Linked DNA regions of Homo sapiens. The protein of the gene in region 1 interacts with the protein of each later gene in a pairwise test. Each region holds a gene or a part of one and is shown in the gene's direction. Other genes may lie near its edges. The genes, in order: ZNF518A and ATF7IP.

What was found.
Region 2: the proteins of ZNF518A (region 1) and ATF7IP interact in a two-hybrid assay, tested with the Homo sapiens proteins (one large-scale study listed by IntAct).

Annotation. Positions count from the first base shown.
Region 1 is NC_000010.11:96,161,260-96,164,553, forward strand, and holds the end of ZNF518A (zinc finger protein 518A), read left to right. Parts: 3' UTR 1-2,500; downstream 2,501-3,294.
Region 2 is NC_000012.12:14,427,999-14,431,829, forward strand, and holds part of ATF7IP (activating transcription factor 7-interacting protein 1), read left to right. Parts: intron 1-3,831. UniProt on the Homo sapiens protein: Recruiter that couples transcriptional factors to general transcription apparatus and thereby modulates transcription regulation and chromatin formation. Can both act as an activator or a repressor depending on the context.

The DNA of each region.
Region 1 (3,294 bases):
TATATCTGCTAAATATAGTTATTTTGAAGGATATTAGGCTCCTTGAAAGTACATTTAACTCACTACAGTTACACCTCATACAATGCTTGAAGAGTTTTTGGCAAGTAAATTTTTTTTCCAGTTGAACTCTGTCACTTGTTAGAGATTGGGAACACTCTCCCAAGGTGATTTTCTTTTTCTAAGTGACTGTGTCAAATGTTGCAGTAGATGGGCAGCTTCAAGAGAAGAATTTAAACTCTTTGTCTCATTGAAAGTTTGGTTAAAGAACTTGAACATATTTCTAAATTTGATTATATTCTCTGATGATCCCTTTGCACAGAACTATGCTTATCTCATGTTTGTCCTCCATAAACAAATGGCCATTTTTTTCTTCTTGGTTCCCATCCCTTTAAAAAGAGTGGAACATAGGAGCACTTCCAAGGGAGTGGCTTTTCTTGAAAATTAAAATTGTTTACCAAAACAGTATTTTGAAGCAAGATCATATTTTTGTCTGTATTCACTTTATTATTTGAACATGTCCAAATTAGGACAAAGCATTTCTGTTAGCTGCTTCTCAGTGTGACTGACAACCCAAAACATATATACAGATTGTTGGCATTTGCAAAAGGAAGCATCAATAGTGGACCCAGAGGCAGTGCATAAAACCTTAGGATAGATTCCTAAGGGACATGCCCAACAGAGTTTTAAAATGGATGTTTTCATGATGACAACAGAATCATAGATTTAGATTTTTCACCTTGTAAGTTTGGATCAAATTTTGCTGGTTCTTTGGATAATGGAGTTCTTGTGTTAACAAATTACGTGCTATATGATTTTTTGTTACATTGTTACAAGTGTTAATGACATTTTCATTAATGGATGAAAACTTCAGGGCTTCTTTTCTGTATATAACAAATTAAGTCTGTACATATTTTTGTACCTTTTATGTAAATTTTGCACAGAAATTTTTGGCATAAGTTTATTTTCTTTCAGTTTAGTTCAGTGCATGCACTAATAAAACTGGTTGTTTAATTTAAAAGGAATATATAAGACTTTACCCATGTTATTTTCTTGGTTTTTATTTCAGATGTAGATTTTGTTTTTGAGGTAAATTCGTTCTTCAGGGATTGAACACTATTGTTAGCAAGTGCCTAAAAAAGATGTGAAACAGTTTACATATGTCAACTGTAACAGTAGGTCCCAAATGGGCCCATTCCCCTAATAGTTTTATTTTTAAAGAAAGCCATACATAGAATGCTTCAAGCTATCTTGCTATGCACATTATACTTGTACTGTTTTGTGCAGTTTGTCTACTTTCTTAGTGAAGTATTTTTTGTATAAAATGTTACAATTGTGTTTCTTAAATTGAGCCTAAGAATGGAGTTAATTGGAAATATACAGTATATATTAATAATGTACATGGTGTTTAAAGAATGGTAAGCATTGTTAATTTCTGTAATGAACATTTTCAATTAAATTTATCTTGTTTGTGTTTACACAATAATTTTTTTACTGTGCTAAAATCTGATGGAAATTTTGTTCTCTAGGAAATACAGATTTTAAAGTGTATGTGTTTTTTCAATGCTAGTTAACTCTACAAGATAGATAAAAGTGTGGGATTTTTTTTCTTCCCAAAATCATAGATGATATATTGTTTAAGAAAGGTAACATATACCATAATTTTACTATGGTTATGCTGGCAAGGTGAGCCATAGAGAGGCTTATAGTCTTCAGTACCCTAACAGCAATAAAATTAAAATGCTCTGTTTGTTACATATAGATCTGTTATGAGACATCACCTGCTGTAAATAGCAAGGAGAGAGAAGGAACTTTCCTGCTAATATTCGCAGCACTATAACATTACATTTCAGAATAGCCATATCAGGAAAATAATGTCGAGATATGTACTTCTTGCCTTTAAGTTTTAACAGCCATTTAAAGTAAGCTTTGTGCTCCAGATATTCTAGTTGGAACTTTTTCTGATTTTGTTAACTTAAGTTATTCTGAGGGAGGCAGACCTGCTTAGAGTTTCATTATTGCCATTGCAGAAAATCCAAAACAAAAGCCTGTATCCTTTATTTTTTGTGTGTGGCTTTCCAAAGAGGGCTTTCCAAAATATGATTTTCAGTAGTTCGAGGTTCTTATTACAATTGAAGAGTTAGTTTTAGTTTTGCAGTTGAATTTCTGTGTGAGGAATTTGTTTTATTTTTTCTAGTTTGTCCATCTCCACTGAAATGGGTTTCTTACTATTTGGCAAGTACTTAAAAAACATAATTCAGTTTTCAAAGAATTTATCTTGCTAAGTATTCAGTAACACAAATTGAAATGTAATAGTTTTTTTAATGGAAAATATTTTCATTGGGGGGTTAGCAAATTTTTTCAATAAAGGGTCAGATAAATAAGCTTCGTAGGCCTTCTAGTTTCTGTCCTAACTACTCAATTCTCATAATGCAGAAAAAAACCATAGACAATATGTAAATGAATTAGTGTGGCTATGTTTTAATAAAACAATTTATAAAAACAGGAAGTGGGCTGAATTTGGCCCACCAGACATAGTTTACTGACTGTTGCTTGAATTCCCTAGAGTCTGCTTTCAGAATGGGATTTTTATTTAAAAAAACAAGCTTGATAAGTTTCGTGATGTACCTCACCTGTGTAAAAGAGCTACAAAGTACGAACTAAAATATGTATATAAAGTTTCTAGTATAGATGTATTTGTATAACAGTGAAGAGACTGTAAATGTAATGAAAATGGTTAGTGGGTAAAATAGGTCATTTGTGTGCTAAGAGTAGTGCAACTTATGAAGGGATTAAAAATGAGATAGAGCAGAAATGCTGTGAGAATTTATGTCCAGGTTAGATGGGAAAAGGACTTAGATATTCTTTCAGTGATTTGAAATAGCTGTTAAGAAAAAGTAATAGAAGTTCTTGGGGTGGGAGAAAATGGAGGTGAATTAAAAACAGAATATTATATACTAATTCCATACAGCTTATCTTGATTTTTTAAAAATAAGATTCCTTTTCACCATTGACATCTACTTCCTTCCTTAACTTTCTTAACAGAGCCATTTGGGGCGTTGGCTCTGTTCTTTGCCTTAGCAACTTGTTAGGATCCTTGCTCTCAGCATACTACCTTGACCCATTGGGGATCTCATCTAGCAAAACTTACTGGGGGGATTTTTCAGGGTGGTATTTGTTGCTAGTTAGCAGAGTATGGCATTAGTGGAAACTTTTTCCTGTAATGGAGAGTTGAAATGGTTGAGTTTGATGTTTATTAATTTATGTATGCCTCTCTTAATAACTGGAGAATTGAGA
Region 2 (3,831 bases), on another chromosome or scaffold:
CAAGCAGAGAGGAGAATGAAATTTACATTTTGGAAAGGTAATAGGTGACAGTGTTGAGAATGAATTTCATCCATTTCCTATAAGTGTCTATACAGAGTGTGGCACTAGGCCAAGTCCATAAAAAAGCCTTATAAGTCCTTTAAAAAAAAAAAGTCTGTATAAGAAAGTTAAAAAAGCAAATTGCAGCTTATGATTTAATGAGTACCTTTATGTCAGAATCTTGATATTGGAGGGCATCCCACACAAGGCAGTTAAGTGCTGAGAGATGAATATTAAGCCATCCATGTTGCATACTTTGAAAATTCAAAGTTGGGAATATTTTTGGTTACTTGCCTTTAATCTGATGGTATGCTATTAGCAGGGTAAATTTAGTGATAGATTTAATTTCTTGGCTCATAACTAAACTTTTATTTTGTATCTTTTCCCCTTCCTCTGAAGGTAATTTTGTGTATTTTGAGTTTAAGAATAGTTTCTTAATTGGTTCTTAAACTGTACTCTGTTCTCTTTATATGGCGACAGAATCTGTTGCATGTCATTTATGTTGCTGTACTCCTGTTGAAATGTTACTTAAATAAATGCCTTTATTCTTGACTAATTTTTAATATACTCAGAACACAGAATTATTAGCTGAAGTACTAAAGTTGGCTTCAGTACTGGCTCTTCCTTCTAGCTACTAACATCTATGAGTGTAGTAAAAGGAAAATAGCATAACCTTCTGTCATTTCAGGCACTTGTTGAGCAAATATGTTTTAAATAAAGCAATTGTGATGTGTATCAGCAGCAACAAGAAATAATGAAAGATAAAGCAAATAGAAAAGCTATTTTAATTTTACAAAAGTAGAAGAAAGAACTAAAAAAGTGTTGCATATATACCTTAATAGGTCTAGAGACATTACTGAATTGTGACATAGTATTATGTTATAACTAATACTCACTAATTATTAAAATGATAATCTGTTTAAAGAGGATAGCAAAATAAAGATTTATCTCTCTGGGAAAGTTCAAACACTAGAGGAGCTTCATCGCCATACCATATACTTTCCTCTAACTACTATTTCATCTCTTTCCTTTCTTTTAGTGCCATTCTTCAAGTTATATTAACAAAGCTAGGACCATTTCTTCTTCTGTTAGGCCTTCCACTTAATTGGATTTTGATTTCTGCCTTGGTAGCTGCCGCCCTCCTAATTTTTCTCAGTGAAATGACATTGATGATCATGTTATTAAATCCGGGGACATCTTTTCTTTGTCTTATCTATTCTTCCATACTTGGATGACCTCTTAATAACAGTTCTTCCCTCTTGAGACTCCCCTTAGCTGTTGGGTTACTGCATTCTCCATCTTCCCTTCTTTTTTGGCCTTTCTCATTCTATTTCTTGTGGAAAAATAGGGATAGGCCTCCTCCACGTGCTTTTTTTTCTTAAACATAAGATTTTTGAAGAGAAAAATCTGTTTTAGAGTGAACTAGATTTTTTTTGCATTAAACACTGACATAGTTTCCTTGCAGATTTTATTTCAGATTAAAATAAAAATCTGTGGTTGATATTTTCCTCCCCTTGTTCATTGGATCTTTAAGGTAAATAAAATAAACATAAACTGATGCTAATGAGGATAATTACATTAGACTAGAATTTGAGACTTCCTTCTATTTTTGCTGTAGGTTAGTATTGATAGAATTGGCATGATTTAGTCAATTTACTGTTAATTTGTTGTCACTGTTTATTGTGTTCAGTTAAAATTCTTTATCATCTCAATCCATTTATATTTAGCTGTTACTTATGTACTTGGCTTCTCTTTGTGGAGCTTCTTAGTTCTATTCACTAGTGTGCAAGTTGCAGATTTTTCTTTTCAGAGTTGAGGAAGACCAAAGATGAAGTAGATTTTGGAAGGAGGTGTATAGGAGGAAGATCATTTTTCAAATGAGTACTGTTGTCCAAGTTAGATGTGTAAGTCTGGATTTCAGATCAGAGACTTGACTTGTATTAGAAAAATATAGTAGGTAGCATGTAGCTATTAGGTGACAAGATGAAATCACCTCAGAGTAAGTATACATGGAGAAAAGATCCAAGAATTGTGCTTTTGGCATTTCAGTGTTTAGGGTTGGGGAGATAAGGAAGAACCAACAAAGGAGCTGAGAAAGAGCAGCCCCTGAGGTAGGAAGAAAATGGAGAGATTTTGGTGTTTCAGAGATTTTGGTGTTTCAGAAGCCAAGTAAAAACACTGTTTTGAGGAGGGAATAAGGTAACCGTTTACTATATCAAATGCTGCTGTGTGTGCTCATAAGATGGAAGAGAAGTATTTAACAATCTGGAGATCATTGGTGACTTTTACCAAGGGGCAGTTTTGGTGAATGGTGGAGTGGAAAACCTGATTTGGGTTTCAGAGAGAATGGGAGGGGAAGAATTGGAGATAATACAATGGGACTTTCCCCGCTAGGTTTTGCTTTTAAAGAGAGCACAAAAATTCACATAGGAGATATTATTTGCCATTCTGTATTGGTTAAATAAAACTAATACAAAATGTCTGGAAAAGTCACATTACCAGTCATGCCTTATTTTTCTGATAGATCTTGTTAGGTTGAGAATCTTTATATGTTTATTGGCCTTTTATAGTTCCTTATCTGTGAATTGCCTGTTCATCTCCTTTGCCCATTTTTCTAATGGATATTGTCTTTAATTTGTCTGTAGGAATTTCTTGTTTTGTTACAAATATTTTCATGGAGCCAGTAATCTAAATCAGTGAATGGGGTAGACTGGCCTGTGAGCCCTGTTTTTGTAAATAAAGTTTTATTTACATAAACATAGCTATGGTAATTTGTTTACATGTCACATAGCACTTATTGCACTTATTTGTTTACATGTCACATAGCACTTATTGCTGATTCCTGCAACAAGGACAGAATTAAGAGGTTGTGTCAGACAGAGGTCATGTGGCCCACAAGATTGAAAATATCTATTTTTTGGCCGCTTACAAAAAAGATTTGCCAATCTCTTATCTAAGGCAATGGTTTTTGTCCTCCATTTTTCCTTAGAATAAAGTTCTATAAAGTATAATTCTGAAATGGGAAACTAAGTCCCCTAATGTAAATTCTATTTTGTAATCCTTTAAAAACACAGTTTTCTACCTTTACTTAATGGAACCTTATTAAAGATAGTAGTCATCTGATAGTATTAAACATGTAATTTGTCTCAGCTATTTCTCAAAGTGTTTGGGATTACCAAAATTATGAGATCTGGTATCTGCCCTTAATGAGCTTACTGTCTAGTCTGCTTGAAAGGAAAGAATATGGAACTATGAAAACTTGCCAAATTGTGATAAGGCTATAGCCTTATCCTCAAGAAAATCAAAGGAATTATAACAGAAACTTATCTGTAAGTAAGGACAGATTCTAAAAAAAACATTCTTTTTTTTTTTTTTGAGATGGCGTCTCGCTCTGTCACCCAGGCTGGAGTGCAGTGGTGCGATATCGGCTCACTGCAAGCTCCGCCTCCCGGGTTCAAGCGACTCTCCTGTCTCAGCCTCCCGAGTAGCTGGGACTACAGGCATGTACCACTACATACAGCTAATTTTTTATATTTTTAGTAGAGACAGGGTTTCACCATGTTAGCCAGGATGGTCTCGATCTCCTGACCTTGTGATCCGCCCGCCTCGGCCTCCCAAAGTGCTGGGATTATAGGTGTGAGCCACCACACCCGGCAGTAAAAAAGACATTGTTAACCTACTATTTGGATGAGTTTCAGGAGTCCCAGGAACTACCTGAAATTATGTCTAAAGTTGTCTGTGTACCAAGGGCCTTTGATTATTACTCTGGGTTGAAGGAGACCCATTCTTAGT